3 linked regions of the Homo sapiens genome follow. The protein of the gene in region 2 interacts with the protein of the main gene of each other region in a biochemical or structural test. Each region holds a gene or a part of one and is shown on either strand. Other genes may lie near its edges.

Region 1 (7,558 bases), on a different chromosome or scaffold from region 2:
CCCCATCTCTACTAAAAATACAAAAGTTAGCCAGGTGTGGTGGCATGTGCCTGTAATCCCAGCTACTCAGCAGGCTGAGGCAGGAGAATCGCTAGAACCCAGGAGGTGGAAGCTGCAGTGAGCCAAGATCACGCTACTGCACTCCAGCCTGGGCAACAGAGCAAGACTCTCTCTCAAAAAAAAAAAAAAGAAAAGAAAAGAAAAGAAAGGGAAAGGCTGGCTACATTATAATTTCAAGCCAGAGAGAGGAGTACTTAGTATATGTGGTTCCTTCCCACTGTTTAAGACCTTTGGGGCCGGGTGCGGTGGCTCATGCCTGTAATCCCAGCACTTTGGGAGGCTGAAGCGGGTGGATCACCTGAGGTCAGGAGTTCGAGACCAGTCTGGGCAACATGGTGAAACCCCGTCTCTACTAAAAATACAAAAATTAGCCGGGCGTGGTGGCATGCACCTGTAATCCCAGCTACTCAGAAGGCTGAGGCAGGAGAATCGCCTGAACCCAGGAGGCGGAGGTTGCAGTGAGCTGAGATCATGCCATTGCACTCCAGCCTGGGTGACAAGAACGAGACTTCGTCTCAAAAAAAAAAAAAAAAAAGACCTTTGGACCACATTGTAAATCCAAGAAAAGGCAAGCAAGCTTGTAGGAAAACAGCTTCTGAATGAACATCTTGTTCTCTGACTAGCAAGAAGTATTTCTACCAAGACATACAACTGGTTATGATGTCTTCCCAGTGGACCCTGCCCCCTATAGTGAGGGGCTCTGGTAATGCTGCATTTTCTATTTATCCTCAGTGATTTGTCATTTGCAAACAGGCAGGTTCATGCGCCTCCATCCTCTCCTTTAGGCAATGGGTGAGAGAAAGGTGGTTTTAAGCATCAAAAACTTAAGTGTGTTAAGACCACCTCCAATAAAAGGCATGACCCTGGGCTTCAACACCTAATTTGGAAAAGATCATGAATCAGACGATCTTGTTTGCAAACCTATTTTGTGATTACTTTTCACATTCTGTTTTATCTTGATGGTATATTAATGTGAATCCAAAGTAATTTGCCTGATAACAGAGACCTGGTATTTCCTTATAGGCTTAATCAGATCTCTGGGGGTGGGGCCTGGGCATAGGTATTTTTTTTAAACACTTCCATATTCTAATAGGTAATTAGTTGTTTTTTGTTTTTTGTTTTTTAATGAGACAGAGTCTCACTCTGTTGCTTAGGCTGGAGTGCAGTGGCGCCATGTTGGCTCACTGCAACCTCCGCCTCCTGAGTTCAAGCAATTCTCCTGCCTCAGCCTCCCAAGTAGCTGGGATTACAGGTGCACACCACCACACTTGGCTAATTTTTGTATTTTTAGTAGAGATGGGGTTTCTCCATGTTTGCCAGGCTGGTCTTGAACTCCTGACCTCAAGTGATTTGCCCGCCTCAGCCTCCCAGAGTGCTGGGATTACAGGCGTGAACCGCCTTGCCCAGCCAGTAATTAGTATTGACCCTCTGATTTAAATTCTTGTTTCTTCATCCAGATTGCATGGATGATGAATCTGGCTTTCTCTCTAAAGCCAATTACCTATTCCCCAGCCCTTACAGCACACAGTGACTCCAGAAGAGTTAGCTGCAAGCAGTAGTCATTATAGTAGTAGTAACTGTGGCTATTATTTTGTGGTAGAGATTAGTAGAAGGAAGACCTCACTTCGACAATGACCGTTCTTGAAAACTTTTGATACTTTTCTCCTGATTTTCCTATTTCCGACTCATCTTTCTCAGTCTCTTTTGGTGAATTCTTTTTCTCTACTATCTTTTAAATAAATAAATGTTGATGTGCCCAGGCTTCTACACTGTATCTTCTCCCCAGATGATCTCATCCCACATTTATTTATTTATAAATAGAGATAGGGTCTTGCTGTATTGCCCAGGTCTTGAGCTCCTGGGCTCAAGCGGTCCTCCCACCTCAGCCTCCCAAAATGCCAGAATTAACAGATGTGAGCTACCGATCCTAGCCCATCCCCACACTCTTGAATTTCACACCACCCAAATTTGAGCCACTAACTCAGAGTTCTCCCCATGGCTTCACTATATCTAGCTTCCTCCTGTGCTCCATCTGAACACATATTATTCATTCCCTCATATAAGATATGCTGCTCTTCTTGTTTTCCCTATCATATTAGTTGGTGCTACTAGCCACCAAGACTCTCAAGCCAAAAGACTGAAAATTATCCTAGTTTACACTTTCCCTCACCCCACTCTTAATCAGTCACTTTATTCTTCCTCTGTGTATCTGAATCTCATCCACTTCTCTCCATCCTCACAGCCATCGCCCGTTTGCCCACCTGGTTTCACTAGACTGGACTCTACCCTCAAATCTCACCATCCTCCACCCTATTCTCCCATTCCCCCTGTCAGACACTTCCTCACGTTGCATAAAAGGTTAGTTATCATAAATGATTCACTACAATCTGTTCCCAAGCTTTACCCTCCAGCACTGCTAAGACACTTCATTTTGGCATGCACCATTTTGTAAGATACTCAAAATCCTTTTCGGGACAATAAAATATACATACCCTTGATACCTGAAGTGTGTTTCTGAGGCCCTGAAGCGTTTGCATTACTGTATTAAAAACTCACAGTTGCAGTCAGGCCCGGTGGCTCATGCCTGTAACTCCAGCACTTTGGGAGGCCAAGCCAGGCAGATCACTGGAGATCAGGAGTTCGAGACCAGCTTGGCCAAGATAGTGAAACCTGATGTCTGCTAAAAATACAAAAAATTAGCCCGGTGCGGTGGTGGGTTCCTGTAATTCCAGCTACTCAGGAGGCTGAGGCAGGAGAATCGCTTGAACCCAGGAGGCAGAGGTTGCAGTGAGCTGAGATCATGCCACTGAACTCTAGCCTGGGTGACAGAGCAAGACTCCATCTTAAAAAAAAAAAAAAACCAGCCAGGTGTGGTGGCTTATGCCTGTAATCGTAGCACTTTGGGAGGCCGAGGCAGGCTGATCACCTGAGGTCGGGAGTTCAAGACCAGCCTGACCAACATGGAGAAACTCTGTTTCTACTAAAATTACAAAATTAGCTGGGTGTGGTGGTACATGCCTGTAATCCCAACTACTCAGGAGGCTGAGGCAGGAGAATCGCTTAAACCCGGGAATCGGAGGTTGCGGTGAGCCAAGATCATGCCATTTGGGCGGCAAGAGCGAAACTCCATCTCAAAAAAAAAAAAAAAAAATCCACAACTGGCTGGGCACGGTGGCTCATGCCTGTAATTCTTGTTTCGGAGGATGCCTGTTTGGGAGGATCGCTTGGGCCCACAAGTTTGAGACCAGCCTGGGCAACATAGTGAGACCCCGCCTTTACAAAAAATTTAAAAATTAGCCAGGTACAGTGGCATGCACCTGTGGTCCCAGCTATTGAGGACACTGAAGTGGGAGGGTCACCTGAGCCCAGGAGGTTGAGGCTGCAGTGAGCCATGATTGTACCACTACACTCCAGCTTGGGTGACAGTGAGACCCTGTGTCAAAAAAAAAAAAAAATCCAAAATCTCACCCAGACCAATACTGTATCAGAATTATCATTTTAACAATATCTCCAGATGATTTATATGCACATTAAAGTTTGAGAAGCTGGCCAGGTGTGGTGGCTCACACCAGCACTTTGGGAGGCCGAGGCAGATAGGTTACTTGAGCTCAGGAATTCGAGACCAGCCTGGGCAACATGGTGAAACCTTGTCTCTATAAAAAATCCAAAAATTAGCCCGGTGTGGTGGTGGGCACCTGTGGTCCCAGCTACTCAGGAGGCTGAGGTGGGAGGATGGCCTGAACCCAGGAGGCAGAGTTTGCATTGAGCTGAGATTACACCACTGCATTCCAGCCTAGGCAGCAGAGCAAAACCCTATCTCAGAAAATAAATAGTTTGAGAAGCAATCTTTTTTTAAATGAGTGAAGAAATCAGACCTAAGGAGAAATCTGATGAAGCCAGAGCTGAGTTAATATTGATAAATGGATGCAGTCAGGTGGTCTATACTTAATTTTTGGTGAGGGGAAGGGACAGTGGAGGCAGTATTGATTTTGAGGAAGCCAAACAGGACAGCCTGATGAATTCAAGATTTCCAGCATATATACATCTTCACCAATCCCACCACCTTGCTCCAGCCTGTCATATCACTGTGTCTACATAAAAAAAAAAAACAAAAAAAAAACTCCAAGGCCAAACTCTCTGACCTTTCTTTCCTTCTAAAGACCAAGCCCTCCTCACTAGCCCCCTGCCCCTCCTTAGTTAACTGGCAAAGAGATCAAAGGGCAGGCCTTCTGACTGGTGATGCCTCAGCTGTAGCCCCCAAACTTGACTCATCCTTTTATTAGTCCAGGTACCACTTCTTCAGAAAGATGACCAGCCCTCACTGACCTTCCCCTTCCTGCTGTGCTCCAGGCCATCAAGGCATGTGTCACCCAGGCTGGAGTGCAGTGGTGCAATCTCCGCTCACTGCAACCTCCGCCTCCTGGGTTCAACCTATCCTTCCACCTCAGCTTCCCGAGTAGCTGGGTCTACAGGCGCATGCTGCCGCACCCGGCTAATTTTTGTATTTTTAGTAGAGTCTAGGTTTCACCATGTTGCCCAGGCTGGTCTCAGACTCCTGGGCTCAAGCTATCCACCCGCCTTAGCCTCCCAAAGTGCTGGGATTACAGGCCGTGAGCCACCGCACCCGGCCTTGTACTGTTACTGTTTATGGGAGGCAGTACACAGCTGGGCTTAAGGGCACAGTCCTGGAATCAGATGCAGTCAGATTTGAATCCCAGCTTCCCTTCCTGCAAGATGTGTGACTTTGGCTAATCATAGTGCTTTACTATCCAAAAGTTGGCAAGGAATGGGTGAACTAATACAGGATAAAAACGCTTGCCCTACTTCACCTGCCCCCAGCTCCCGGCTATAAACAGTAAATAGCTGAGCTGCTGCAGCACTCAGGCAGGTTGGCCAGCGCTGGGCCAGCAGGAACTGGAAGCTGGTGTGGGGCCTGGGACTTTGGACGCATTTCCAGCTTTCTCTGAACCGGGCTGGCTTCCTAGCAGATAGGGCGGGACCGTCGGGTTGAGTGACGGCCGGTGGCCCGCCCTGGGCGTGACGTTGTTCTAGTGTTGTTGCCAGCAGCTGCACGTGGTCGGCTGAGTCCGCCTCAGACTCAGAGCTGCGCTCCTCGACCTCAACGCCAGGCGGTTACTTTGCTGCTCCTCCCGCTCGCTATGTCAACGTCCACTAGCTGCCCGATTCCCGGGGGCCGGGACCAGCTGCCCGACTGCTACAGCACCACGCCGGGGGGCACGCTATACGCCACTACCCCCGGAGGTCAGCGGGCCGGGCAGGGGTCCGCAGGCTGCGGACATATTAGCGCGTGCGTGTTGTTGCGGGGCGGGGGTAGGGGAGGGACAGACCTAAGACTTGTCCGCAGGCCCCTCTACAGGTTGTAGCTTTGGGGGAGAATGTTTGGAGCGGAAGCTCAGTTCCCAAAAACTTCTAAGTGATGCAACAAGGCCATGAGCCTAGCTTCCGGGTGTTTGGGCTGTAATCCTTCACTGTGGCCTGGGTTCTTGGAGCCTTACACACGCTCCTTACCCCTCGCGACTTTGCTTCCTAGGAATAGGGGCCAGGGCCCCCTACTGAGCGTGACCTCAGCCGGAAGCACCGGGTCTTGAGAAGTGGAGTAGTTAGAACAGTTGGGGCAGTTGCTCCGTTTTTGTGCTGCTGGCTGGCGTCTGTTTGGTTGGGCGAGCAGCCTGGGATCACGAGCTGCTGGGCTCCCGACCCAGGGATTCCTGCCACGCGGAAGCGGAGGGGAGGAACAGGGCAGGACCCTTTGAGGACATTATGCGGGCCAAGTTCCTCTGAGCTAGTGTGAACCTTATAGGACCTGGGAGGGGTCAGGATTAGAACAGTACGTTTCTCCTCCCTGCAGGAGATAGCCCAGGTAACAGCACTGGGTGGAACCCTTCACAACTGCTATTTCACTTCTTGAACCACCTGAGGCTGTTAGTCTAGGTCTCACCTTCACTGGTGAGACCAAAGCAGAGGTTTCAGAGTGGTAGAGGAGCAGCATGAAGTACCTGAACTCAAAGTTTGGTGTTCCTCTTAGAGCCAAGATCTGAAGCTCTCCCAAACATAAAGCCCCTGCCTATACCAGCTGGGATGCCCCCCTTGCTTTATACCCACATCTTGGTTAGGTCTGGAAGATTTTAAGCACTATGAAGGCTTGTCTGCTGAGAACCTAGCTGGGCTTCAGAGCCGATGTCCTTTGATACACAGGGAAATTTGACACCACCCTCACCTCCAGGCCCCAAAAGGCCTGAGTCTGGGACCCCAGTCACCTCGGTACCCAAGCTCCTGACTCTTACCTCAGTCCCAACCCCTTGACAGGCACCAGGATCATCTACGACCGAAAGTTCCTGCTGGAGTGCAAGAACTCACCCATTGCCCGGACACCCCCCTGCTGCCTCCCTCAGATTCCCGGGGTCACAACTCCTCCAACAGCCCCTCTCTCCAAGCTGGAGGAGCTGAAGGAGCAGGAGACAGAGGAAGAGATACCCGGTAAGGAAAGCAGGAATTAAGAATTGTCCCAGCCTTTGAGTTCAAATGCCACTGTGACACAGTGCGGGGGTTCAGTTCCAAGAGGGGTTTCTGCACTGATGCTGAGCCTGCAGATCCTCAGACCAGCAACCTGTCTTCCTGCCTTTTCTCTCTCCAGATGACGCACAATTTGAAATGGACATCTAATCCAGTGCAGATGACCTGGCATGTGGAGTTACAGAGGGATCCCTCATGCCACTGCTGCCACCACCTCTTCCTGGGGCATCCAAAGGCCAGCTGGCCTCATCTAATCTGGAAGGGAGTGACTTGTTAGTTCCAGGCCTCCTTTAGTTCTGAGGCAGCTAGACCAGGGATAGGAGTGGGCAACTTGCCAAGCCCTTAACTCTACTTCCTCTTCAGTCTGTGGTACTCCTCCTAACCCTAAACCCTCTATGCTCAGGGGCTGGAACTGGGGAATGGAGTAAGTCACCTTCTGACTGCTTAGTAAACATTCAAAGAAATGCCTTGGCTCCAGTGTTCTCCTCAATGCTGATTTTCTCATCTCAGCCACACAGCTGAAGGCCCTGGCAGGCCTGGTTAAGCTCAGAGGCCTCAGATCATTCCCAGCTCCCACCAGGCCCACTTCCAGCAGCAATTAGAACCTGAGGCACGCTACAGTGGCAGGTTACATGAGCCTCCAAACCATAAACAGCAATAGCTTGGCCACTGCCAAGGGCTGTTCCTGTCTTCCCAGGAAGCAGCCTTCCTGGAACCAGGGCCCCCCAGCAGCCCCTCCCCTATCCATTCCAAAGCAGGACTCTTGGAAAAGAGGTGCTGTCCCAGCCTATAGCCATCCTGTCTCTCCCTGTGCCTTTTCTGCTTCCCACCTCTAAGCACCAGTTCCTCTATTCCAACACCAAAAACCTTGTACCCTTCTCACAGCATGATAGTCCACCAAGTACCTCTCTCAAAGGGTTACAAGAGACCTTAGAGTTCACACTGAAACCCAAAATGAGGCAGC
Region 2 (7,760 bases):
GCCCAGGAGTTTGAGGCTGCAGTGAGCTATGATCGCGCCACTGCACTCCAGCCCCAGCAACAGAGCAAGATCCTGCACCCCTACACACAAAATCCAACTATTTAAAACTGTCAAAAATAATTCCACATAACTAGCCTGTGCACAAGGGTATATTAAAAGTACTAAAAATTTTCAGGCCAGGCGCGGTGGCTCATGCCTGTAATCCCACCACTTTGGGAGGCCAAGACGGGCGGATCACCTGAGGTCGGGAGTTGAAGACCAGCCTGACCAACATGGAGAAACCCCATCTCTACTAAAAGTACAAAATTAGCCGGGCGTGGTGGCACATGCCTGTAATCCCAGCTACTCGGAAGGCTGAGGCAGGAGAATCGATTGAACCCAGGAGGCGGAGGTTGCGGTGAGCCAAGATCGCGCCATTGCACTCCAGCCTGGGCAACAAGAGTGAAAGTCAGTATCGAAAAAAAAAAAATTCATTTCTCACTAAAACTAAACACTTCGATACTATTTTACATATATTCTCAAAATACTTTAGTTTCCAGCTTCACACACTTTGTTTTTAGGTTCCCCTACTCCCCAAATTTAAACATAACATCCAAATCTCCCAAAGTCTGTACCAGAACAAATACTGTATCACTAACCACATCCCTAGGAATTAAGTTCCTTAAGGGTTTACATTCAACAAGACTCACATCTTGTATAACTTTGTATCCTAAAGAACACTTGGTACAACACCCTGGATATATCAGGAGCTATTAATATTTACTAACTCAAAATATAGTCCTTCATCACTTTGCAGTTCCGCTCTGTGCTGCTGAAACAAAACTGCATAAACTCTGCAAAACTCAAGGGACCTAAATGTGACAGAAACCTCACAGAACTCCTTATTGTTTTATAGTTTACAGTCTCGTAGCCTTGCCCCTATTACCAGATGTAATGCTTTTTACTGACACTAGTGTAGTGGGGTAGGAACAGATCTAGACAAAAGTGGACATCAGAACCTGTCAAGGGGTTTAAAATGTATATTTTACATACTTATTCTTCATTAGTGTTATGTAATATTAATGTCCTAAAGTCAGTTAACTGTAGCAACAACTTATGAGTTTTTCAGTCAATTTAATTCCCAGGAACATAAATGAAAACTGGTGCCAATAAAAAAACAAGTAAGCAAGCAGAGAAGCTGCCTTGAATTTTGACAAGGTAAGGATAGTTTACACCAACGCAATGAAAAATAAGCCTTTGTGTAGTCTATAAGAGTTTTTGAAATAGTTTTATAAAAGTCTTTAAAAGTGCCGGGTGCTGTGGCTCACGCCTGTAATCCCAGCACTTTGGGAGGCTGAGGCGGGAGGATCACTTGAGGTCAGGAGTTTCAGACCAGCCTGGCCAACATGGTGGAACCCCGTCTCTACTAAAAATACAAAAATTAGCCAGGCACGGTTGTGCGCACCTGTAATCCCAGCTACTCAAGAGGCTGAAGCAGGAGAATCGCTTGAACCCGGAGGCGGAGGTTGCAGTGAGCCGAGATCACGCCACTGCACTCCAGCCTGGGCGACAAAGCAAGACTCCATCTCAAAAAAAAAAAAAAAAAAAAAAAAAAAAAAAAGTCTTTAAAAGTCAAAGCAAACTGGTAAACCATTAGCAAAACCACAAGCTACCATGAAAAGATACACAAAAGTATCTGGCAACCAAGGTCTAGAGCTGGTTCCAGAGTGTGAAAGGTTTTCTGATTGCTAATAAACCCCATTATGCACACAAGATATCTTCACTTAGCTGTGTCGTTTCTAAAAAGGCAACAGGGCCCAGAAGTTTCAGTGAGCCAGTCCTGGCAAACCCAAATTATGAAAAATATACCCTCTGCTTAAAGATTAACTACAAACCTACCCTGGGACCAGCTTGCTTCAGTTAAGTTTAAAATGGTGCCTAAATTGAAATGAAAGTCTGTAGCATAGATAAAGAGAAAAAAAAAGTCAAATGGAAAAGTAAATTTAAAAGTTTCTATTTCCAATAAACTGCGTCTCAGAAATCTTCCAGGAGATAAAGACTCGGAAGAACAGAGGGATTGAGACCCATTCGCATTCTCTGAGGCGTGCGCACTACGCGGAAAGGATGAATGAATGGAAGACGGGCGCGTGTGAAATGCAGCAGGTCCGGCCGGCAAGCCGACCGGCTACAGCGATCTGTAGGCCTCGCTCCTCCCCCTTCCCTCCTCCATGACAGCCCAGTCCCAAGCATGGAGGGGCGAGGACAATGTGATACCCCTTCTCACCACCACCATCCCTCATTCTACTTGGAGAGCTTCACCGTGACACACGAGTGTTCCTTCCCACCCCAGACCTTTCTCGCTTCCCCTGGCGCAAACACCGGCAACTCTCCGGCGCGCTGGATTAACAGACGCTCGCCCCTCTCAACTCCCCTAAGCGAGGTCGAAGCTCCTCCGCGCGTGCCGCGGCACCACTCCCGCCTAACCCACCCTCCGGCAACACTCGCCCACCAGCTCCCCAGTCCACCGGTCTAAGGAAGACGTGCGCGCGCCCCGCACCCGAGCCCCGGAGCTGGGGTTCTGCAGGGAGGGAAAGGCTGCTCCAGGGCTCCCTCCTCCATCTCACTCCAGGCCGGCTCGCCGCCCACCCTGCCTGCGGATCCCAGTACTCGCTGGGAGCCGGCCCTGCGCCTTCCTATCATGAAGACACCATCCTCGCATACCCAGCCCAGAACCCCAGCTACCCTCCACCCTGTAGACACCTCGCGGTTCCGCAGGAGGCGCCACGCCGCCCCTCCCCCACACCGCTCCCCCAGTTCTCGGGCCCCCACCAGAAAGTGTGCGCTACACGCCGCCTCGGCCATCCTCCGGGACGTCCCCACTTGTCCGCGGGAGGTCAGGTCCAACATGAAGGGGAAGGGGCGGCAAGGGGTACAGTGCGCGCCGGGAACGCCGTCCCGCGGAGTCCCCCAGTCAGAAGGAAGACGGAGCGCGGGGACCCGTGGGGGTGGGGGCCAAAGGCAATACTCACCGGTTCGACAGTCGCCATCTTAGATCGATCTGATCGCACAACCGCTCCAGAAGGGGGGGTAAGAGGAAAAAAATGAGATTCAAACCGGATTGGCCAGCTTCTGGCCACGTGACGGATATGTCCGTTTGGCCCTGGCGGCACCTGCGCAAGACTGCGGCTGCGTGAGTAACGAGAGGCTTCTGGGAAGTGGAGTCTCTCCCCCACCTTTTTTTTTTTTTTTTTTTTAAGGTAAAGAAATTTTTTTTAAAAAGGACTGGTCACGTGGCCGATGGGTAGGGTGCGCGGTTCTCAACGCGGCGGACACTCGCTTGCTGGAGGGTGGTTTCAGTCCTCTGCTCTTCCGCCTGGATAGCTGCGGTCACACTTACTGCCAGGCAAGCCTACTGTGCCCTTTGTCGCCCTGTCCTCCCATCTTCCCCGGAAGGTTGGGAACTGCAGGCTCAGCACACACAATAAGGCTTCATTTGCTTAGTTGAGGTCCCAGGACAAGTTGCCTGTGTGTTTATTTAGTTTTCTTTTGATCTCCCACCATTTTCTCTTAGTTTCAAAAAGAGGCGGCGATGCAGAGTCGTTTAGGCAATCAACCCTCCCACGTCCCCTGGCTCAGCTAATGCTGGTGGTCATTCGTTGCCATTTCTGCGAAAGGGGACGGACGGAACCGCCCGCAGTACCCGCTTGCCACCGGCTGGACGAGGGGGAGGGACGACAGCTTTTACTGTCCCAAATCCTGAGATTAAGACCTCAGGGCTAAATCTTGCGTGGCGGTAAAAATTATTTGGAAGTTCTGTGCAACCGTTCCAATATTCCGCTTTTACGTGCACGGAAATAGCCTAAGTCCAGATGCCAGCCAGGGAAGCCACTCCGGGCCCCGCTGACTAAGCCCTGGACTGATGGTCTGGAGTCTTTAGGCCGGGTCAACTATGACTCTTGACGTTGACTCATTCTCCTTAGGCGAGTGACTTAATCGCTCGGCGTCTCAGCTTTTTTATTTATGAACCAAAGGTGATGATACACTTACCTCACAAGGGTGTGCTTCGTAATGACTGTAACCGGCTTTGAAAATGCATCGGACTCTAGAAATGATTCATAATAAGCAACTGCGTGCCTTCCTAAAGATCAAGTGCTTCTGCTTTTTTTTTTTAGCAAAGTTTAAATTTTTTTCTGTTTACTTTGTTTGATTATGATGTACACCAGTGTAGTTTTAAATGTTCAGGACCATTTTTTTTCCTTTACAACTGCAGCTGCCCTCAATAGAGGCTTTAATGTTCATGAAATTATTGTTATGCTCACAACAATCACTGGCAATCAGAAATTTGTCCCCACACTGGCATCCTACATTTCCTTTCCCTCTAAGATACTGTGCTGTCATTTCTCAAGACCGTGTTTTTTGCACAGTTTGGCTACTAATAACAACAAATAGAGATGAAGAAATCTAGTAGACTCCTAAGGTTCTAATGAAGAAGACACTGTCTCATTACTATTTCCCATGCTTTTAAATAATGTTGACACCAGGAAAAGGAGTGTATGCAGGCTGCCTGTGCCTGTCTGCTTATAGTGTTAATGAGGTCCAGAGCTGTGTCATACCTATTATTGAGTACATAATGGATGCTTGAGTTGACTAACACATAATTGAGGCTGTATGAGAACTCAAAGCCATTGCCTGTTCATATGTTTTGGTTTACCTGAATATCAGAAGTGATTAATGAAAGCTTTTGTCTAGTGGGCTTAGCTCTACTAGGTTTTAAAGTAGATAGAATTAACAGGCCAGGCGCAGTGGCCCACGCCTGTAATCACAGCCCTTTGGGAGGCCAAGGCGGGCGGATCACCTGAGGTCAGGAGTTCGAGACCAGCCTGACCAACATGGTGAAACCCTGTCTCTACTAAAAATACAAAAATTAGCCAGGCATAGTGGCACCTGCCTGTAGTCTCAGCTACTCAGGAGGCTGAGGCAGGAGAATCACTTGAACCTGGGAGGTGGAGGTTGCAGTGAGCCAAGATCCCGCCACTGCACTCCAGTCTGGGCGACACAGTGAGACTCCATTTCCAAAAAAAAAAAAAAAATGATAATAAACGGATAAGTGGATTTCTACTTACAGAGACTATCTACTGTTACTTAGACTATCCAAAATAATTCTGTTGACCGCGTTGTTATTTTCTGCTGGTTAGAAGTGGTGTCAGGTTACCTTCTTTGAAGAGAAAAAGACAGCATAGATGTCCTATTTTCCCCTTCCCCACCCTTCCCCACCCTTCCTCTCCCTTCCCTACCCTTCCCCTCCCTTCCCTTCCCTTCTCTTCCCCTCCCCTCCCCTGTCCTCCCCTCCCCTCCCTCCCCTCCCCTCCCATTCTCTCTCTCTCTCTCTCTTCCTTCCTTCCTTCCTTCCTTCCTTCCTTCCTTCCTTTCTTTTTGTCTTTTCAGGGTGTTGCTCTGTTACCCAGGCTGGAGTGCAGTGGCATGATTATGGCTCACTGCAGCCTTGACCTTCTGGGTTCAAGGGGTCCTCCCACCTTAGCTTCCCAAGTAGCTAGGACTACAGGCATGGGCCACCATGCCTAGCTAATTTTTTTATATTTTGCAGAGACAGGAGCGTCTAGCTATGTTCCCCAGGCTGGTCTCAAACTCCTGGGCTCAAGCGGTCCCCCTACCTGGGCCTCCCAAAGTGCTGAGATTGCAGGCATGAGCCACCATTCCTGGCCAGATGTCCTATTTTCATGAAGCTGTTATATAACAGCAAAAAATCAATGAGATTGGCAAGAAAATACCTATAGGACTGAAAGCCAGTGATGTTCTTAAAACTTTTTTTAAACAACAGTTTCCATTTTTATTAAATTTTCTGTTAATCAAAAAACTCGGGCCGGGCACGGTGGCTCATGCCTGTAATCCCAGCACTTTGGGAGGCCAAGACGGGCGGATCACGAGGTCAGGAGATCGAGACCATCCTGGCTAACACGGTGAAACCCCGTCTCTACTAAAAATACAAAAATTAGCTGGGCATGGTGGCAGGCGCCTGTAGTCCCAGCTACGCGGCAGGCTGAGGCAGGAGAAAGGAGTGAACCCAGGAGGTGGAGCTTGCAGTGAGCGGACATCGCGCCACTGCACTCCCTCAGTCTCAAAAAAAAAAAAAAAAAAAAAACTCCCTCTTGTCAACCAAGACTCATACTTTTACAATACTTATGGATGCTCTATTCTTTATGGTTTAGTTTCTTTCCATTTTTTACATAGTTTTCAACAATTTTTCTTTATAATTTTCAAGCACAGAGTTTCAGGAAAATCTCCATTTTTGTATATACTTTGTTGTGTGTGTTTTATGACCATTAATGTGTCTTTGCCTATTTGAGATTCTACCATTTCAAAGATTTAACGATTAGGTTTTTATGTATGTGTGTATGTGGTTGTTTTGTTTTGTTTTTGCCAATCCTAAATATATAGAGCTGAAATTTTATGTTTTATTTCTCTATTTATTCTCTATTATTCTTTATTGCTCTTCAAAGGACTTGTAATTCCAAGTTCATTTACAGAACTGACCAGAAACCATCCAACAAGTACTAAGTTAGTAATGGGAACTATGTAACCAGTGGAGGATATTTAAAGGACACAGGAAGTACAGGCACTTCCTTCCCCGACTGTAAAATCTGGTTGGCGTACTAAGTCATAGAAATATAAATAGTTCAGTACCCATATAAAGAGGTGTGACTAAGAACCAAGAGGATGCAGTTAACAAGCACCATAACCAGCACACATTCACATAATGAATGAGCGAATCATATACTTCCTTCCCTCATTTCATCCAGGCCTCTGTTCCAATGTGATCTCCTGAAGGAAGGCTTCCTTGACCACCCTATCTAAATTACTGTTTCCATTACTCTTTATCCCCTCACTCTGCTTTGGTTTTCTTTAGGCCACTTCATAACCCTAACTCTAAACTTGCTGTTAAACATTATTTAATTAGTTGTTGATTGACCCTACTACTAAAATATTAGCTCATTGATGATTTGTAGATAGATTGCTATCAAATATTTGGGGAAAACTCAAATGTAATTTTTTTTTCCCGAGATGCAGTCTCACTCTGTTGCCCAGATCTTGGCTCACTGCAACCTCTGCTTCCTGGGTTCAAGCGATCCTCCTGCCTCAGCCTCCCAAATAGCTGGGACTACAGGTGCGTGCCACCACACCTGGCTAACTTTTGTATTTTTAGTAGAGATGGCCAGCCTGGTCTCGAACTCCTGACTTCGTGATCTGCCCGCCTCGGCCTGCCAAAGTGCTGGGATTACAGGCCTGAGCCACTGTGAACCCTTATTTTAATTTTACAGTTTGAGAGACACCAATTCCCATTACCTACTCAGGACATTGCTTAAAAACATGGGATGTACGCAAACATGACCAAGGAATTTTGAATATTAAAAGATTGGAGCAGAATTGGAATTTAAAAAATTATTTTATTATTCTAGTTAGTTTTTTGTTTACTCTCTCCTTGGTGATTTTTATGAGACTGAGGCACTACCTACTGGCTAAAAAGGCACCTTGATTTTTAAAAGAAAATCAAGAAAAAGAAAAAGAAAAAAATTTTTTAAGGGAAACCTCTTCTGCTATTCTAATATATCCGTGTGCCAACATTTTATGCTTTTACAATTATAGGGTGCAAAGAGTTTTTGTTTGTTTGTTTAGAGACAGGGTATTCCTATACTACTAGGCTGGAGTGCAGTGGCACAATCCTGGCTTACTGCAGCCTCTAACTCTGGGGCTCAAGCGATCCT
Region 3 (8,134 bases), on a different chromosome or scaffold from region 2:
CCATGTTGGTCAGGCTGGTCTCAAACTCCCAACCTCAAGTGATCAGTCCGCCTCAGCCTCACAAAATGCTGGGATTACAGGCGTGAGCCACCGTGCCTGGCCAAATAAAATTAATTTTAAAAGTAAGCCAAATATGTATGACAAATCAGTGCTATAGAGAAAAACAAGTGAAAGGAGATAGGGAGTATGATGGTCAAGGAACTCCTCAGTGATAAGGAGACATTTGAACAGGGATGGAAGGAAATGAGAGAACAAGTTAGGGGGATAACTATGTGAAAGGAGTTCCAAGGAGTTAAGTGCAAAGACTCTGAGGCAGAAGGGCTATTTTGTTTCGAAACTGTCTATACTATAAACACTTTAATAACATTTACAAATTTTACATTGAGTCAGTGATTATTTCACTTTGTGAAGAGATTCATTCAAATGTCAATGATCTTATTCTTTGGTTCTAAATGAACCAAAACACAGCTTCACTGGAATGAGAGACATCATAGAATAATTCGTTCTTCTATCTTCTCCAAAGCAAGAGCCTTTCAGAAATGTTACTTCCTCATTCTTAACAATATTCAAGACTTGTCTGAGATCTGTCTCCCAAATCAATGTTCTGCCACAAGAAAGTCAAAGCAAAAAATATTTAAATGGAAGAAGGGAGAGGGAGAAGTAGTGTATTAAAATGGAATGAAAGTAAATATACTAATAGAAAATTTACCTTAGGAAGAATATTTAAAAATCTAGGTGTTATAATTGAAAGAAATGTATGAAATGTAAATAGTTAAGGATTACAAAAATAAAGGCCATGTAACAAATTTTCTTTGACAGATTAGCGGTGTTCACTGTTTGACAGTATTCCAAAACAGTAGTTTAATGGTTAAGTAAAAAAGGCATTGAATACTATTTTGATCATTTGTTTATCTTCCAAAAACTAGCTTGTGAAATACCCCAGGTTTCTACTACAAGATGTTAGTGCATATACTAGACATGTAATGTCTATTTGAGGAATAAATGAATTTCAGATTTTCAGGAAGTATTATTTCCCCCATTTTTGTAGAAGCAAACCAACTCTTCAAGTACTCACTTTTAAAATTAATAATTACATGCAAGTATAATTAGTCAAAATAATACGCGATTAGAGCAAAGTCATGGTAGAAATGACCATGACTAAACTTTTAGCTTTTCTAGGCTTGTAACTGCATTACTATTTAATAAGCAAAATAATTTTCAACTTAACCCATGTCTATCACTAAGCAAATCAAAACAAAAAGTGATCCATTGCTCCTTCCATAGTTTGGTAATGGTTCAAAATGGTAATACGGTTCAACTCACTATTTTATATCCAAAAAAATCTAAGCTCCTCCCAAGGTGACTCTGAGTCTAAAAATTTGAACATGTAATCATCACTTTGTGTGGTATAATAATGATCTCATTTACATATAAAATAGATTTAACATTCTGAAATAATTTTACATTTAATTTGTGTAAACTCTGTAGGTAGTCTTCTTGAACTGTAAGTTCCGTGAGGGCAGGGATCTCTAGTGCAGCCCTTTACACTGAAAGTCCAGTTAGTAATATTTCTGCTGTTTCTGGTAAGTCAATATAAACAATGTTTTTAAATTATTTACTTACCAGCTAAAAGACGCATAAAATAGTTGAATTTCTATTTTAAAGTGTGATTTCTTTTTCAGTTAAAAAATGTACACTAAAGTTCAGTAAAGCTGGCAGATTCAGCAGCATGCTGAAGGACAGTTACTAACTGGCAGAAAAGTTACAGCAGCCCTTTTAAGAAGGATTTAAAATACTGATCATTAATACGTAAAAATGCAAAAGTTTAGAAACAAAGAATGACACTGGAGATAGTACAATAAATATTCATGCAATTAAGCTGTTTTCCAAGGAGCGGTCCCCACAAAATATGGGGGAAAAAAAAAACCTTCAGAGAATGCAATATCTGAACTGATAAGGAGCTCAGCATGTTCCAAGGCACTCAGACTTAACATTATCTCACCTGTCTGTCACAGCAACTCTGTGGCGTAATTTTATGAATGGGAAAAACTCAGGATCAAGAGGTTAAGCGACTGGCCCAAGGTCACTCAAGGAATCAATGGTGCAGCTATACCTAGAAGGGTGCACTTCACCTGATCCTTCCCACTACATAAGCCAGCTCCCCGACTGAAGCATTAGGACAGCGGAAAAGCAGGGATCAGACTCTGTGAGTGTCCCGCACTACTCCTATCCTGCCAAGGAGGCGCGGGCTTGCCTTTGAAAGCCTTCCCTAGCAACTCAGCCAGAGAGGAGGAAGTTGTGCCCGAGGCAGGCCACTGATCAGCCCAGCAAAGTGACAAGGATGACAGGCGCAGCCCCCAAAGGACCAGCCGGCATTCCCAGGAGCCCTTCCAAACCCTGCGACGGCGAGACTGGTCTCAGAAACATCTGAAAAACCTCCCAGTAAGTTTCGCCCCCTCCTGGACGTGAGGAACCAGCTGGGAATGAGCCAGAGGTCGGCCAGCCACCCGAGCCAGCCATGTGTCCAACCCGTCACGCCCGCCCCGCCTCAGCCGGCTCCTCATGCCTAGACCGCAGCCAGAGGCCCAGCTCAGGATCCGAAGCAAAGGCAGCCTTGGCTGCAGCCACCACCACCACACCACACCGAGGCGCCCCGGCGTGGAAGTCGCCGTCAGATGTCCGCCCCACCCTCCTGCTGGGACCCTCAACGACGTCGTCCGCGCCTCCGGCCAGGCCCCGGGGGCTCGGCCTGCCACTTCTGCCCACCCGCCTGCCCGCCGCCACCGCTAGCCGGGCGTCCTTACTTCATTGAGCTGGCGCTCCGCGGCCTCACGCAGGGCTGGGTCCATAGTGCCCCGCAGGGCCTCGATAATGGTGTTGGGGTCCATCGCAGCGCGGACTCGGTCAAACCCGGGGCTCGGGTGCTACTGGGCCAGGAATAGCGCCACTCACTGCGCACATGGACCCGCCGCGCTCCGCAGCGGCAACCGGCGCGAAAGGAAAGAGAAGCGCCAAGGCCCCGGATAGAACCTCTTCGCCTCGGCGTGGAGGCGGGAGATGCTCCGGCGACTTCCTGTGGGCGCGCCTGCGGAGCACTTTGGGAGATGTAGTCCACAAACACAGTCCGCAGCCCACGTGGCTGCCTGAGCTGTCGTTCCTACAGACAAGTCTTTCTGTTCAAAAACGAAAAATGTTCAAGTTCCACAAAAAGAAAAGCAAAACAATCAGTTACAAAAGGTTTCACATACTATATCCACAATGTTCATAAAGGGAGTCAGATACAGTGTGTGGTGCAATCGATTGCTAATGGCTGCGTGATTGAAGGAAACTTTCTGAAAAGCAATTTGAGATGTGTTTCTGATAGCCACTAAAATATTTAAACTGCCGGGCGCGGTGGTTCACGCCTGTAATCCCAGCACTTTGGGAGGCCAAGGCGGGCGGATCACGAGATCAGGAGATCGAGAGCATCCTGGCTAACACGGCGAAACCCCGTTTCTACTAAAAATACAAAAAATTAGCCGGGCGTGGTGGCACGCGCCTGTAGTCTCAGCTACTAGGGAGGCTGAGGCAGGAGAATCGCTTGAACCCGGGAAGCGGAGGTTGCAGTGAGCCGAGATCGTGCCATTGCACTCCAGCTTGGGCAACAAGAGCGAAACTCCGTCTCAAAAAAACAAAACGAAACGAAATGTTTAAACTCTGACCCAGTAATTCCACTTATGAGACTTTATCCTAAGGCAATAACACGGAAGATTAAATGAACTTTATGTGTGAAAGGTTTTTATCACATTACGTATTAGTAATTACCAAATACTGAAATCATGGCTTTTTATTGAGTATCCAAATTTTAGTTGGGACTTCATATAAATCACCTCTTAATGCAGAGTAAAAGCATAATCCCTATTAAAATACACCTTCCTGCCAGGCGCGGTGGCTCACACCTGTAATCCCAGCACTTTGGGAGGCCAAGGTGGGCGGATCACAAGGTCAGGAGATTGAGACCATCCTAGCTAACACGGTGAAGCCCCGTCTCTACTAAAAATACAAAAAATTAGCCGGGTGTGGTGGTGGGCGCCTGTAGTCCCAGCTACACTGAGGCAGGAGAATGGCGTGAATCCAGGAGGTGGAGCTTGCAGTGAGCCGAGATCATGCCACTGCACTCCAGCCTGGGTGACAGAGCGAGACTCTATCTCAAAAATAAATAAATAAATAAATAAAAATAAAAGACACCTTCCTAGCCAGGCGTAATCCTCCTGTTGAGGCAGGAGGATTGCTTGAGACCAGAAGTTCAAGGTGACAGCCTGTTAAGATCGTGCCTATGAGTAGCCACTACGCTACAGCCTGGGCTACATAGCGAGACCCCATCTCTAAAAAAAGAGGGAGGTGGGGGAGAAAGAAAGAAAGAAAAAGTCCTCTTTTATAACAGCCAAGAAAAAGTTTGTTTTAGAAAGGTTAAATAACTTACCCAAGGTCACGTAGTAAGAGGTTCAACTAAGATTTCAAACCTAAGATCTTTGTTTTCAAACTTTCCATTGTTTCCACTAAATCACTCTGCCTCTGAAGAGAAATGTTGAACAATATAGGACTGGTTAAGCAAATAGCAAGAATCCAGTAAATTAAATATTTCACAGCCATTAAAAAATATAACAAAAAAGTATTTATGGAAGGATATAGCTTTGTAACATGGACAAAGACTGAAAAGCAAGGTTAGCAAATGAAAATAATTTATTTTCTATTAACAGGATGGTGAGATTTGGAGTAATTTCCTTTCATATCTGTTATTATTGTAACAAAGTTATATAAACAGATATACTTAAAATTAATTATAAGCCTTCAAATACAATGTGTTAAATGATCACTTATTGTTTTTAATTTACAAAAAAAAGAGAAGGAAAGGCTCACGAAAGCCTTTCCCTGAAGCGGTGGGTTTTGCAATGTTACTACCTTGTATATGCCAGCCACTGTGCCTGGAAGTACTGGAAGTAAGACAGAATTATTCCTAATTTAGGCCGGGCATGGTGGCTCACAACCGTAACCACAGCAATTTGAGAGGCTGAGGTGGGCGGGATCACCTGAGGTCAAGAGTTCGAGACCAGCCTGGCCAACATGGCAAAACCCCATCTCTACTAAAAATACAAAAATTGCCTGGCCCGGTGGCTCACGCCTGTAATCCCAGCACTTTGGGAGGCCAAGGCGGGCGGATTACGAGGTCAGGAGATCGAGATCATCCTGGCTAACACAGTGAAACCCTCTCTCTACTAAAAATACAAAAAAGACCGGGCGCGGTGGCTCACGCCTGTAATCCCAGCACTTTGGGAGGCCGAGGCGGGCGGATCACAAGGTCAGGAGATCGAAACCATCCTGACTAACATGGTGAAACCTTGTCTCTACTGAAAATACAAAAAATTAGCCGAGCGCGGTAGCGGGCGCCTGTAGTCCCAGCTGCTCGGGAGGCTGAGGCAGGAGAATGGCGCGAACCCGAGAGGCGGAGCTTGCAGTGAGCCAAGATCGCGCCACTGCACTCCAGCCTGGCGGACAGAGCCAGACTCCGTCTCAAAAAAAATAAAAAATAAAAAATAAAATAAATAAATAAATAAAAATAAAAATACAAAAAAATTAGCCGGGCGTGGTGGCCGGTGCCTGTAGTCCCAGCTACTCGGGAGGCTGAGGCAGGAGAATGGCGTAACCCGGGGAGTGGAGCTTGCAGTGAGTCGAGATCGGGCCACTGCATTCCAGCCTGGGCGACTGAGCAAGACTCTGTCTCAAAAAAAAAAAAAAAATTAGCCAGGCATGGTGGTGCTCACCTGTAATCCCAGATACTCAGGAGGCTGAGGCAGGAGAATCACCTGGACCAGGGAGGCAGAGGTTGCAGTGAGCTGAGATCGCACCAGTGCACTCCAGCCTGGGCAACAGAGCAAGACTCCGTCTCAAAAAAAAAAAATTTACAAATGAAGAACCCGAGGCTCAGGCTACTTAAATTGTGAGGAGTCAGAAAGTTTTCATAATAATAACCTGTAAAAAGTGTAATAGTGTTACAAATACAATCTGTTTAAGAATTTTCCTCTCCCTGAATTGTTTGAACCCGGAAGGCGGAGGTTGCAGTGAGCTGAGATCGTGCCATTGCACTCCAGCCTGGGCAACAAGAGTGAAACGCCGTCTCAGAAATAAAAAGAATTTTCCTCTCCCTGCTCCACTGCTCAAAGTGAAGGCCTTGAAAACAGGCTTATGTTCTATTGACCTTTGTATCCTCACCTCCTACCACAGAGTTAGAATGTAAAGGAGGAGTTTAAAAAATTCTTTAAGTGAATAAATGAAGAAAGGAATTAATAAACTAGTAATGACTTATAGGTGGCTGAGCCAGAATTGAAGCTTCATTCTTCATGATTCAAAAGCTAGTCCTCTTTCTGATATTATATGCCTATTTTAGATTCCAGAATTGACTTGTTTATCACGGAATTGTGAAGATTTTAGCAGAGCACAATGTATATGAAAGAACCTGGCACATAGAAGGTAGTCCAAAAATGTTAGTTTCCTCTCCCTAAAACTGAAAGGGAAAAGAAGTGGTAGTGAAAAATATGGTTTTAAGCTGTAGTGCTGGGAACAGGGAGCCAACGAGGCTTGCAGATCTACAGCTGGCATGGGGCCTGTGTCTCATCCTTCATAGAGAACAGAGCACACTGGGTACAAGATCCTGTCTGGGGAGCCAGCATTCCTGTATCCAAAAAAGGAGCTTGGCCCCAGGGAGCATTCAGGAGCTAGTTGGTAGAGTGATTAGCACACTCAACCTATTTGTAGATTTTAGTTTTATTTTGTCAAGCTAGTGACACAGAGAATGTGACTTACGTGACTGGAAATTTCAGTGTGAACTCCTCTAGGGCAGAGACCACATCCATCTTTTTTGTGGTAGACACAGAAATGAATGAGTGCTCAATAAATAAGTATGAGAAGACTAATGAAAAAAGTGGTTTGTTAAGCCACTGTAAACACAATTACATAACCTTATGGTGTCCCACAATCCCAATCCCCAGCACAGCAGCCAACACAGGTATCTAAGCCTCCTTAGGCAAGGTGAAGGCTGAGAATTCAGAAAAGCATAAACCATAGTCTCAGAGTTGATTTTGAGGTAGGATGAAATTAGACAAAAATTAAGAAGAGATGCGGCCGGGCACAGTGGCTCCTCATGCCTGTAATCTCAGCACTTTGGGAGGCCGAGGCTGGCAGATCACGAGGTTGGAGAGTTAGAGACCACCCTTGCCAACATGGTGAAACCCCATCTCTACTAAAAATACAAAACTCAGCTAGACATGGTGGCGTGCACCTGTAGTCCCAGCTACTCAAGAGGATGAAGCAGAAGAATTGCTTGAACCCAGGAGGTGGAGGTTGGTTGCAGTGAGCCGAGATCACACCACTGCACTCCATCCTGGCGACAGAGTGAGATCCGTCTCAAAAAAAAAAAAAAAAAAAAAAAAGAAGAAGAAGAAGAAGAAGAGCTGGGCCTGACTCAGTGGCTCACACCTTTAATCCCAGCACTTTGGGAGGCCAAGGCAGGTGGATCACCTGAGGTCAGGAGTTCAAGACCAGCCTGGCCAACATGGTGAAACTCCATTTCTAGTAAAAATAAAAAAATTACCACAGTGTGGTGGTGCGTGCCTGTAATCCCAGCTACTTGGGAGGCTGAGGTGGGAGAATCTTTTGAACCTGGTAGGCGGAGGTTGCAGTGACCTGAGATCGCACCACTGCACGCCAGCCTGGGAGACACATTGAGACTCCATCTCAAAAAAGAAAAAAAAAGATAGTTATACCATAAGGGAATGGAAAGAATTAGTGTTCCCTTTACAGGCCCCCATTGGGGCTTTTGTGGGTAAATGCCAATGACGAGACCCTTGATGATAATTGACACGGAAAAAGTTCCCTCGTCCCCCTCTCAGAGTCTGAGATGGCGGTGTGGCTCCCTTCTTCAGTGCCTCACTGCTCAAACCTCTCAGGGAACATACAGACGGGTAAGGCTGTGGGGCTCTGAACCCACAGCAGTGTCTACTGGTGAATGTTTACAGTTCCTAAAGCCCCAGTGGGTGTGTGTTATAGGATGCTCTTTTAGTTTTGCTGTCTATAGGTGGCTTGTGTTAACCAGCTCAAT

What was found. The genes of interacting proteins can lie anywhere in the genome.
Region 1: the proteins of EIF4E (region 2) and EIF4EBP3 form a complex in vitro, tested with the Homo sapiens proteins (2 studies listed by IntAct, with this or other methods).
Region 3: the proteins of EIF4E (region 2) and IPO7 form a complex in vitro, tested with the Homo sapiens proteins (one study listed by IntAct).

What each region holds. Positions count from the first base shown.
Region 1 is NC_000005.10:140,542,519-140,550,076, forward strand, and holds EIF4EBP3 (eukaryotic translation initiation factor 4E-binding protein 3), read left to right. Parts: upstream 1-5,143; 5' UTR 5,144-5,219; coding exon 5,220-5,322; intron 5,323-6,387; coding exon 6,388-6,558; intron 6,559-6,715; coding exon 6,716-6,744; 3' UTR 6,745-7,058; downstream 7,059-7,558. Other genes in the region: ANKHD1-EIF4EBP3 protein, read left to right, coding at 6,388-6,558, 6,716-6,719. UniProt on the Homo sapiens protein: Repressor of translation initiation that regulates EIF4E activity by preventing its assembly into the eIF4F complex: the hypophosphorylated form competes with EIF4G1/EIF4G3 and strongly binds to EIF4E, leading to repression of translation.
Region 2 is NC_000004.12:98,926,087-98,933,846, forward strand, and holds the start of EIF4E (eukaryotic translation initiation factor 4E), read right to left. Parts: upstream 3,048-7,760; 5' UTR 3,027-3,047; coding exon 3,009-3,026; exon of another isoform or gene 2,887-3,008; coding exon of another isoform or gene 2,809-2,886; intron 1-2,808. UniProt on the Homo sapiens protein: Acts in the cytoplasm to initiate and regulate protein synthesis and is required in the nucleus for export of a subset of mRNAs from the nucleus to the cytoplasm which promotes processes such as RNA capping, processing and splicing.
Region 3 is NC_000011.10:9,379,518-9,387,651, reverse strand, and holds the start of IPO7 (importin-7), read right to left. Parts: upstream 3,001-8,134; 5' UTR 2,889-3,000; coding exon 2,805-2,888; intron 1-2,804. UniProt on the Homo sapiens protein: Functions in nuclear protein import, either by acting as autonomous nuclear transport receptor or as an adapter-like protein in association with the importin-beta subunit KPNB1.